Linked DNA regions of Homo sapiens. The protein of the gene in region 3 purifies or fractionates together with the protein of the main gene of each other region. This does not show direct contact. Each region holds a gene or a part of one and is shown on either strand. Other genes may lie near its edges.

Region 1 (4,264 bases), on a different chromosome or scaffold from region 3:
CAAGTATCTGGGACCACAGGCACACACCACCATGCCTGGCTAATTTTTTTATTTTCTGTAGAGACAGGGTCACCCTATGTTGTCCAAGGTGGTCCTGAACTCCTCACCTCCAGAGATCCTCCTGCCTTGGCCTCCCAAAGCACCGAGATTACAGGTGTGAGCTACCACACCTGGCCCAAGGGTGGCTTTTGGGAGAAAGGGCTACTCACGGTTCTTCTCCTCCTTCAGAGGCCGGCCATTCTTGTACCAGATGACTTGAGGAATGGGGTACCCGTTCCTCCCTACACAGGTAGCGACCTAAAGAGCACAGGGTGTGAGTCTCCCTGCCTCCGAGCCCCCTTCAAGCCCCATCTCAGCGGCTGCGCACCAGCTGCCCAGCCCACCTGCCACACATCTCACCTCCTCAGGCTCCTTACTGTTCACAGGGATGCCCAGGGGGTTGACCTGGATGTTTGGCTCCTCCGGAGCTTCTACAAGAAAATAGAAATGAGGGGGACATCTGGCCACGTCCCACCACCCTCACTACCCTGCTGGCAGACACAGGGTCACGCACTGTAGACGCGGAGCTGGATGCGGTACTCCTGGGACCGAGGGCGCTTGCCCTGGCACAAGAAGATGCGCTCGTCTTGGGGGGTGACTTGAGTCAGGGCCAGAGTAGCCCCTCTGTCCTGGAGGCTGAGCCGCTGCTCGTACTCCCCAGGTTCGCTCTGGCCCTGGCCCTGGCGCACACGGAAGATGAGCGTCCGCTTCTCCTTGTGGACCTAATGGGAGGAGACACAGAGGAGGAGAAGGGTCCTGGGCTACAAGAGGGGCAGAGTCTCCCTCCCCGGGCTGCTCTTGCAGGAGCCCAAGCACTCACAGAAAACCAGTCGACATGGCTGAGGTTGCCTTGGGACTGGGAGAGGCCGCACTTCAGAAGGGCTGTGCTGCCCACTTCCACCTCCACCAGCTCAGGCGCAGGCTGCTCAGCCTCTCCGGGCACACCTGGGGGAGGGAGGCGGGGCCCCCGCAGCTGTGTCAGCTCCGGCTGCTGTCCGCCCCTCCCCTCGCAGCGCTGCTGCAGCTGTTTTTCCTGCCACTCAGAGGGTCTGCAGAGGGCCCTGTCCTCTGAACGCTCTACCCCCACCCCGACCCGCGCCCCACCTGGGCCAGCCCTCTCCCCGTCCAGGAGATCCCAGGTCCTTGGAGCCAAGCAGAGATTGAGCAGAGACTGAGCACCGAACAGCTCCAGCTGAGGCTGGTAGAGGGGCAGAAAGGGGCAACCTAGGCTCGGGGCCAAGAGGAAGGCCCCTTTCCTTCCAGGCCCCCTCCTCTCCGGGTGAGCTCAGAGTGTGGGAATGCAAAGCATGTGCCAGGCTGGGGCACACAGGCCCTTTTGTGTCACCACCGCCAGGGGAAGACACCACTGCTCTATCCTCTGCCCTCCAAAATCCCTGCCCTCACTCCCCAGCGGGCTAACTCTGGCGGAAGTTCCGGTCTCATGCTCCCTCAGCAGCACCTCCATGAACACTCCGCACACACCCGCGGACCCCACCCTAGGTAGCTGGTAAGGATGGAGAGGTCAGAGTCTCCCCCAGGGGTCAGGGCAAGGGCCAGGCAGTGGGCAGGAGTGACGTCAGTGGTGCCAGCGTGCTGCCAGCCCTGTGAGGAGGTGATGTCACTCGACACCATCTGCCTGGGCTCTGGGATGCCTGGGTTGTTACCTTGGCTCTCGGACAAGGAGGGCAGGTGGAAGGTGGGGTCTCCAACCCAGAGCCTCAGACCCCTGACTCCTCCCAGAGCTAGAAGAGCAGGGCAGGGTGGAGCTGGACCGGCTGCAACTGTGGAGCCCGATTTAGCCCTTTCCCCAGAAATAAAGTCAGCCTGGGAGGCAGTAGCCTGGAATACCCCAGGGACATGGTTGGCACTGGGCATGAGGCCAGCGAGCTGGGTATTGCCTAGCCCTCCCCTTCCCCAGCCGGACAGCGGCTGGGACGGCGGAATGGGAGCCAAGAGAAACACGCGACACCGCTGCGGGCCATACAAGGGCAGCGTGGACCCGAGAGCGCCCTGCTACCAGGCGGATCCGGAGAAACGCTCCGAGGTGCCCGGGCGCACTTCCCACCTGAATGTGGTCCCCAAAATAAGCCAGCGGGCGCTTCCAGTATGGGAATCCTCCATCCCTCATCTCTGTCCCCTATGATCCCATCACTCGGGGAGGCGCGAGGCGACCCACACCGCCCCGCAACCCCTGCCAACGCCCAGCTCGGGCGGGAGCCGCCGAACCTCCCGCTCTCGCTCACCTCCAGCCTGGCGTGATGCCCAGGCAGAAGGGGGAAGGGGTGGGTCGGCGCACCCCCTCCAGCGAAGGAAGCTGCCTTTTCCAGCAACAGGCGGGCGCGGAATTCAGGCTTTGAGGATGCGCCCCAGCTGCGCCTCCTGCCCGGCTTCAATTGCGGGCCCCCAGAGTGAGCACCTCAGGGACCACCCACCCCCCAGCACCCCGAAAGGCTGAGCTCCACCCCTTCTCGTTCCCAGAAGCAGCCTCCTCCCCGCCTTCCGAGTGCTGCTCCCGGGATACTCTAGAATCCCGGCTGCAAACTGGCTGCAAAGAAGAGTTGCTCGCGCGCAAGGCGCCCGGGGATCGGGGACCCAGGGAGGAGGCTCGTCCTCCCAGACGCAACGCCCCGACCCCGCCGCGCCGCTGGCTCTGCTCCCTGGCACGCTCCACCGCAGACCCCTAGCCGGGGCGCGGCCCCCCTGCGAGCGAACTCACCCGCGACGCGAGGACAGCAGCAGCAGGCGGCGAGCAAGAAGGCGCAGACCAGCCTGGGAAGCCCCATGCTTCCCGGCCGGAGGGCGAGAGCCAAGTGAGCAGCTCGAGGCTGCCGGGGGCTGACGTCAGGGGGGCGGGGGAGGGGGCCCGGAGCGCCCGGGCCCGCCCCGCCCCGCGCAGCCCCCAGCCCCCGCCCCGCGCGCCGCAGCCCTAGGGGGCGGGCCCCGGCGCCGCCAGCCCGGGAGCTGCGCCTAGGAGCGCTGCCGGAGGTAGGCCAGAGCCGGACTCCCAGGCTCCTGGCTTGGGAAGGCTGAGGGGGTAGTGACAGGTGTCTCGGGGTCTGACTGGCCGAGGTGGCAGCGAGGAGAAGCTGTCCCGGATGCCCGGAGTCGCCCCGGGTCGAAGCCAGCCAGGCTCACCGCTGCTCAGCCCCTGCCAGCCAATGTAGCCCCTAGGGGACCTCCTGGGGGAGGAGCAGTAGCGGACCTGGTCCTCGGTGTCCCCAAGGGGCCTCCCACTTGGGCTCCCCTCCCTTGCCACAGAGAATTCAGGCCGGCCTCTATCGCTTCCCAGAACGATTGCACCACTGCCGCTGCCGCCGGCCTGACACTGCCTCAGCCTCAGTGCTGGCAGCTTTGGGAGAAGAACCCTGCGCCAGTCCCACAGACCCAGAAGTACCTGTATGGGGAGTGCAGACGATGCCTTCTGGGCTGTCCCTTCAAACGCAAGCTCCTGCAAGTCTAGCCTTTGACCAGAGAAAGGAAGGAGGGGGCTGAATTCGCAGGCCCAAGGTGTTCACACTTGTCCAGACCTGGGCCTTGAGAATCATGTTTCTTCCCTCTTCACTCTGGAGCCTACCCTGGAACTCAGTTTCCCCTCACCTAAGAGAAAGAAACAGGGAGAAGAAAGAGTTAATGGGCGAGGGTCCCCAGCCTGACCCTGCAAACCTGTTGCTGTTCCTGATGATTGAAAGGATCCCGGCAGCGCTGATCTTCCCCCACCCCATGTCTTCCCCAGCCCTATTGATTGTGGGTCCATAGCTGAGGGAAGAATCAAATCAGACCTGCTTGGGTGGGGAGCTCTGCAGCTCCCCTTCTCCCAAAACGCCGGCTTCTCCCTGGGTCTTCTGGCCTCTTGAACTAAGGCTCTAGGGAGGGGGAGGTGCTCTTGCCTCACTCTGACCCCAGCAGCCTGGCCTCAGAAAAGGGGTCCACATCTGCTGGCGCGCCTCCACCAGGGAGTGCCAAATAGGGGCCTGGATTTGGGTAGAGGTCTGTTGCCCAGCGGGGCCACCCCTTTGCTCGCTGGGGGAGGTGGAGGGTGAGCCAGCAAACCCTGGAGATGGCCAGGTGACTTGAGAGCATGCTCCGGGGTGGCGTTTTGATGACGCAGAGATGACTGGAAAACCACACCAGGCTTGTCTTTCAGAGCCTTCTCGACCCCTCCTCCAATGCCATTAGTCTCCAGCCAGAGGCTGTGCAGAGCCCAGGCCCACCGGGCCAGGGGCCT
Region 2 (3,642 bases), on a different chromosome or scaffold from region 3:
TAGAAACCCGGACAGGCTGGGGCAGCCACACGAGGGGGCTGCCCCGAGGCATCACAGCTCCCCACAGACTCTCAGAAACCAGGAGCTCAGGCCGGGGGCCCAGGAGCCTGAGGGAAGGAAGAAAACAGCCAGGCGCCTGCAGCACCAGAGGCACGCACCGGCCAAGACCCACAGAGCATCGGCGAGACCTGCGCGGAGCCCCTCGAGGCGGGGCCAGGGACCAGCAGGCTGTCCTGAGACTGGCCACAGGCCCTGCTGCACCATGTGGCTCTTCCTGAATGTTCTCAGCCACGGAATGCCAGGAGTGACTGTTTACCAAGTTAATGGCTCATGCATGTCCTGGCGGATGGATGTGTCACCAGGCAGAATCATTAAAATATCCCAAACAGGCCAGGCGCGGTGGCTCACACCTGTAATCCCAGCACTTTGGGGGGCCAAGGTGGATGGACTGCCTGAGCTCAGGAGTTCGAGACCAGCCTGGCCAACATAGACCATCCTGGTGAAACCCCATCTCTACCAAAAATACACAAATTAGCCAGGCGTGGTGGTGCACACCCGTAATCCCAGCTACTGGGGAGGCTGAGGCAGGAGAATCACTTTGAACCCGAGAGGCTGAGGTTGCAGTGAGCCGAGATCCTGTCACTGCACTCCAACCTGGGTGACAGAGGGAGACTCTGTCTCAAGAAAAAAACAAAAGTAAAAAATAAAAATGAGCCGTTGGAAACCATTCTGAGCTGTCTAGTCGTGCAAGGTATTGTGGTTTTGTCTTGAAGCGTCTGCGTCAGTCAGACACGAGCATCTGGCGAGGAAACGACGGGGCTTGTAGGATGTGCTTCAGAGGGGCCACTGCCGGGTTCTGCACTGATGCCTGCGTGCATCTGGGGTCATTTTCATGTCACTACTGCTGCCCACTTCTCAGAACTCATAAGAAAAAGGAACAATGAGCAATAAGACGCTATGTCAGGTTCCTTTCCTCTGCAAACCCTGTTGGCACACAGCCACAGCAGGCACAGACCTCGGCCCCAGCCAGGACTCACAGACCCAGCTGGGTCCTGGCCACCCACATCCAAGTTAAGATGCCTCCAAGCTTGGGTGTCCTAACCTGTGAACAGGAAGGAGCTCTCTGTGCAGTGTCTAGGAGGGCAGCTCAGGGGCTGGGGGAGCAGGGACGGCTCTGAGCAGGGGAAGAGGCCTGTCTCAGTGCAACCAGAGGCCCCATCTGAAGCTGGCCGAGAAGAGGGCAGCCCACCCTGCCCTCTTCTTGGACAGCCGGGACTTCTGGGAGAGGAACTGGCCTGGCTTGGGGTGGGTGGTGCAATGGGGCCATGGTCGGGGGAGGTCAGCTGAGACTAAGGAGACAGCTGATAAACACCAGGCTCATGTCCCCGGGGGCCTTGAGCCTCTGCAGAGGGCAAGGGGGGCCCGCTCCACAGGCAGGCTCCCCTATGGGGCCTCACAGCCTTGGCAGGGGGTCCCACTCCTTGCCACCTGGGCTTGAGTCTGGACCCAACCCTGGCCTGGGCGTCTTAGCGGTTGGCACATCCAGGAAGTGCAGCTGGCACCGGTCACAGCAGGACCAGGCCCCGGACCCTTGGGCCGCCTCCTTCCCCTTTTGTAGGTGAAAGCTCCACGATGCAACCCGACCGGAACCCACCGGAAGCTGTTGTGAGCAGCCGCCAGGCCAGCCAGCCCAGACAAGCACCCGGTCCGGGAGACGGCCGCCTCCCTGGGTCTAGCTACACACACAAGCCAGAACTCTTAGGAGCAGCGCAAGACTGCCGGGGCGCACGGGGGAAACTCACACACGGAAGTCCGGACCATTAGAGCAGCGCAAGGCTGCCGAGGCACACCGGGGAAACTCCTTAAAGAAACTCCTGTGCAGCCGGGCGGGAGGCTGCGTCGGCCCAGCCAACAGGAGGCGCCCACGTCGCCACAGCCCTTCCCCCATGGGTGTGGCAGCCCCAGGTCTGCGGTCAGCCCCCACCCTCCACCCAGCCTGGCCAGACCCGCCTCTGAGGCCGGCCTAGGGTACGCCTGTGGCCATGGACAGGGCAGGGTCTCGGTGCAGCAGCAGGCGCTGGTCCTGACCCCAGTCGTGCCATGGGGTGGGCGTGCACAGGTCTCCTGTCAGGGAGGGCAGAGAAGCTTTCCTGGGCCGGCTGCCAAGCCTTGAGCAGGACGATGTCAGCGCCACCAGAGGCAGTGCCAGCCCCCAGCCCTGGCCCCTGCAGCCTCTCAGCAGAGGCGTGCTGCCCGCAGGGAGCCAGGCGGGAAGGTCACTGAGGACCCCCCAGCACCTAAAGCCCGTGATTCTGGGGGACGTCTCTGACAGTCACTCTTACAGTCTCAACACTCTCTTTCCCTCCTCGCCAAGGCCCCTGGAGAGCTCTAGGGTGTGATTTCAGGTTACCAGCCCTCCTCCCTCTAGTCTGCTCCCAGGCAGCTGTGCTCTCAGACATTTATGGCTGGGCCCAGAGCCTCTCCCAGCTGCCTGGCGGTGAGCAAAAGGCCCTGGCCCAAAAGCCACAGATGCTGAGCCTGGACTCTGAAGTGTCTTCAGAGACAATGTCTGAAGAACCCCCACCTGGTTCCCAGCCCCACAACCTCTGGGTCCCAGCAGAGCATCACCTGGGGTCCGGCCAGCACACACTGCAGCCACCCCCTCTGGGTCCCAGCAGAGCATCACCTGGGGTCCGGCCAGCACACACTGCAGCCACCCCCTCTGGGTCCCAGCAGAGCATCACCTGGGGTCCGGCCAGCGCACGCTGCAGCCACCCCCTTTCTACCTGTCCTTTTCAGATACGCTCAGGCCCATCAGCAGAGACCAGCAGACCCTGGCTGCCCCTCCGGGGGGACAGACATCTCTCCTTCCCAAATCCCCAGTGCTGGCACTGCCCCAGGGAACCTCGCAGTGGCTTCTGGCCTTGTTACCTGCAAGGCCAACCCGCTGGGAAGCGGTGCAGCCTGGCAGGAAGCCAGACGCTTGTATCAGACCAGCTGTGCTTCACTCTCCCTGCCCCGCACGGACGTCCACCGAGCAGGACTGGGGTGGGTGCTGAACACGATTTGTGGGACATGCCTCCTGAGCATGGGTAGCCGGCAGACAGGGTCCTCAGATCTCAGACCCCAGTGCTACCCTGGGCAGGATGCTCTGGGCAGGAGCCGCCGTTTAAGGCGGGAACCTGCCTCCAGGGCCAGCATCCCACCTGCCCCACACAGGAGGCCCTCTCTGGGCTGCAAGCACAAGCCACATTCAGATGCTGCTTTAGCGGTCAGCCTCGGCCTCGAGCTTCTCTGCCGCAGCACAGTCTGTCCCGAAGGCAGAGAACGGGGTGGAGACCCACAGGGCAAGAAAAGACTTAGCAGCCCGATTTCAGGAGACCCTAGACACTGCCTCTGAAGACACTTGTTCTCCAAGCACTGTCCCTCATCTGTAAAAAGGGATATCTGGCTTTGGAAACCATGATCCTCTGTGCAGACGAAGCCTCTGAGAATTCCCAACAGCCCCAGGAGGACATCTGTTGTGCGCAAAAGCCCATCCGTTAGGGCTCTGCCTGAGGTGTGCGGCCCTAGGACACAAAATCAGAGCGGCATCTACAGTCCTTTGGCGTCAGAGACGGCTGTCTGCATCCGAAATGTCCC
Region 3 (3,642 bases):
CTTTTTTTGTCTAAGTCTGGTAGAAATTAGGAAAAGTTAAAAAAAAAAAAAAAAGGCACCCGAAAGATGTGTTAGAGACAAAGTACATTCGTGTGAACAGTTGCTTCCAGTAGTGCTTCTCAAAAGCTTACACTCTGGGATTTCTGGGGTCTCTCACACATTACTTTGTGTATGCGCAGATATATGTGCGTGCATGCATGCATGTGCACACACACACATGCATGCATGTGCACACACACAGGTCTCCTTTTGCACAGATGTCTCTACTACAAGAGGATTCAGTCAACACCACTCAAATCTAGTGCATCAAAGGATCGTGTAAGGAACTTATATTCATCGAGTGCTAAGATGTGACATGTACTGAATTTAGTAGTTTCCCTATAATAATGACAATCTTATGAGCTAGGTATTTTCCCCACTTTACAGATGAATAAATTAAGCCTCTCAAGAATTAGATAACTGCCTGTGACCACGGTTTTTCAATGAAATAATTGATATGAACCCAATTTGTATTACTCTAAAGTTCAAGCTTTCTCCCCTACCACGTTACTGAGCTGCGATTGTAGCCAGGCAGCTTGTTAGAAATGCAGAACCTGCTTGAGTCAGACAGGTTAGCGAGGCCCAGGGGCGGGGTGCACGTGTCTTGAAAGTTTGAGAAGTGCTGCTTTCTATCACTTTGTTTTGGAGTTTGGAATATCCTAATTTCCATGGCAGATCGGAGAGGGGTAAGCAGACAGTTTTAAGACAAGCCTCAGTCTGAAGGGCAGAGAAACTCACTGCTCCTGGATTGGGAGCAGTGAATCCTGGATTGGGAGCATGCCCCAATCCAGAAACTCACACAGCTCACCAGTTCACTAGATGATGTGCTGAGGATGACAGAAAGATGACGCACATTCTAAAATCACGTGTGCCAATTTGGTAGGAAAAATAAAGTGAACTGCTCTTGTCTAAAAGTCAAAGCAGAGTGGTTCATGTCAACCAACTGGGCCATTTATATGATATTATATAAAAGAGAAGTTAATTTATCCTCTGAGTAAATTTACCCAAAAGAAAAAAATGGGGAACTACTTAATAACACAATGAGGAAGGTAAGAACTCGGTCTCTATTTTGTAATGGGAAAGCTTCCTCTGGGCTCCCTAGTCACTCATTTGAATGGCAGAATCATGAATTCTTCACGTAGCCAGCTCAATCCCTCTTTCTTTCTTTTTTTTTTAAATGGAGTCTTGCTCTGTCACCCAGGCTGGAGTGCAGTGGCGCGATCTCGGCTCACTGCAACCTCTACCACTCGGGTTCAAGCCATTCTCCTGCCTCAGCCTCCTGAGTAGCTGGGACTACAGGCACGCACCACCAAACCCAGCTAATTTTTGTATTTTTAGTAGTGACGGGGTTTCACCACATTGGCCAGGATGGTCTCGATCTCTTGACCTCGTGATCTGCCTGCCTCGGCCTCCCAAAGTGCTGGGATTATAGGCATGAGCCACTGTGCCGGGCCTCAATCCCTCATTTTTAAGTTTATCTTACTTTACCCTTATTTAGCTCTCAGTGAAGACAAGCCCTGCAGTATAAAACTCTTAATCCACTAGAGCTGGCTTTTCCTTGGTGATGAAGGGGTAGAGATTGAGCCATGGGGATGCTTTAGGTTAAAGAATGCTTTTTTTTGGCCATCATGAGGATCTAACAACAGAGTAGAAGGAAGGATGCCCTAGGTCAGCACGCAGGGTGGTGGGAGGGCTTTCATCTTCCTTACCCAAGCCTCTCTTTTCACTTTTCTAGAAGTTCGGAAGTTGTTATATGATGAAATAGCCTCCTTTAACGTTTATTTCTGGGTGCCAAGGGAGGCCCATTCCTCTAACATTCTGATAATTCTTCTCAAAGGCCTATGATCTAAACATTTCACCATGGCATCCACTTAGCTGTGAGGCTGCATACACAGTCTCCACCTCTGAAATCTGAACTTCATTTACCAGTGGTGCTGTTTGAACTTCATAATGCCAGCACTTCCTGAACACTTACTGTGTGCCTGGCTTGTGTTCCTGAGTGCCTTATATCACAAGGAAACGGCAAAATCAGGGGACTGGTGTAAGTGGTGAAGCTGGGCTTGAATCTAAGCTTTGTCTTCAGAGCCAGTACCCCTAACCTCTCTTTCTGTAAAACATTACTTTTCAAAGAATGAAGTTGTAGCCAAATCTTGAAATTTTTCATTTACCCTAAGTGAGAACAAATAAAGCTTTCAGCAAAATAATAATAATAATAATAATCCACTATAGCTTTTGGTTCTCTAGGCCAAAGAAAGCTTTCACAATCATTTTTTCTGTTCTTTGGTCTCCTGGAAAGCTTTCAGTGGAAGCGATGTTTGGGACCTGGAGTATGACATAGTGGGATAAATTCAAGTTAAACTTGAATCTGAAGCCCAACTTGCCTCAGTTTCCTCACCAATAAATTAAGGGTCATAAGAGTATGTGCCTCATGAAACCGTTGGGAAATCTAAACTTGACCATCTACAAAGTGGCTGGCACAGAAACAAGTGCTCAACACATAGACATTACAGTGATCCAGGCCACATCCAACCAATGCAGAGACCAACAGAGCCTCTTCAGGATCGGGAACATCCAGTTAAAATTTTTTTTTTTTTTTTTTTGAGACAGAGTCTCGCTCTGTCTCCCAGGCTGGAGTGCAGTGGCAAGATCTCGGCCCACTGCAGCCTCAACCTCCTGAGTTCAAGCAATCCTCCCACCTCAGCCTCCCAAGTAGCTGGGACTACAGGGGCATGCCAGCACATCCAGCTAATTTTTTTTTGTCTTTTTTTGTAGACACAGGGTTTCACCATGTTACCTAGGCTGGTCTCAACTTCCTGGGGTCAAGTGATCTGCCCACCTCGACCTCCCAAAAGTGCTAGGACTACAGGCGTGAGCCACCACACCGGGCCCAAGAGTAAAATCTTTAACCAAAAACAGGCTTTTGAATAGCTTCTGATATGCATTACAAAATTTCTCTCCAATTCAGTTGTGCTGATTTCTAATGACAACTGTGATGGTTGAGATCTCCCAGGTAATACAAAGAACCACACTTACCAAAGAACCACCAGGCCCCAAGAGCCCTATGAAATAGCTCCTGGTGGGCCAGGCACGGTGGCTCACACCTGTAATCCCAGCAGTTTGGGAGGCTAAGGAGGGTGGATCATGAGGTCAGGGGATTGAGACCATCCTGGCTAACACGGTGAAACCCCATCTCTACTAAAAAATACAAAAAAAAAAAAAATTAGCCAGGCGTGATGGTGGGTGCCTATAGTCCCAGCTACTCGGGAGGCTGAGTCAGGAGAATGGTGTGAACCCAGGAGGCGGAGCTTGCAGTGAGCTGAGTTCGCACCACTGCACTCCAGCCTGGGCGACAGAGCGAGACTCTGTCTCAAAAAAAAAAAAAAGAAAGAAAGAAATAGCTCCTGGTGTCTCCATTTTGGGATGAGGCATCTGAGGCCTGAAGAGGTCAAGCAGCTTGCCCAAAGTCACCTACTAGCAGCCAGGATTTAAGCTGAGGTCAGTCTAACTGTGCACATAACGGCTAACCAGTCTCCTGAGCCTCAACAGATCCCTCCCTATAAGCCCAGCCAGATTAGCCTTTCCATGTTTCCCTCATATGTTAGC

The links.
Region 1: the proteins of HGSNAT (region 3) and MCAM fractionate together in Homo sapiens (co-fractionation; one large-scale study listed by BioGRID). This does not show direct contact.
Region 2: the proteins of HGSNAT (region 3) and TRABD purify together in Homo sapiens (affinity purification with mass spectrometry, with the first as the bait; one large-scale study listed by BioGRID). This does not show direct contact.

The regions. Positions count from the first base shown.
Region 1 is NC_000011.10:119,314,280-119,318,543, forward strand, and holds the start of MCAM (cell surface glycoprotein MUC18 precursor), read right to left. Parts: upstream 2,852-4,264; 5' UTR 2,823-2,851; coding exon 2,756-2,822; intron 985-2,755; coding exon 860-984; intron 762-859; coding exon 554-761; intron 471-553; coding exon 400-470; intron 298-399; coding exon 210-297; intron 1-209. UniProt on the Homo sapiens protein: Plays a role in cell adhesion, and in cohesion of the endothelial monolayer at intercellular junctions in vascular tissue.
Region 2 is NC_000022.11:50,188,809-50,192,450, reverse strand, and holds part of TRABD (traB domain-containing protein), read right to left. Parts: intron 1,865-3,642; exon of another isoform or gene 1,655-1,864; intron 1-1,654.
Region 3 is NC_000008.11:43,143,322-43,146,963, reverse strand, and holds part of HGSNAT (heparan-alpha-glucosaminide N-acetyltransferase isoform 1 precursor), read right to left. Parts: intron 17-3,642; coding exon 1-16. UniProt on the Homo sapiens protein: Lysosomal acetyltransferase that acetylates the non-reducing terminal alpha-glucosamine residue of intralysosomal heparin or heparan sulfate, converting it into a substrate for luminal alpha-N-acetyl glucosaminidase.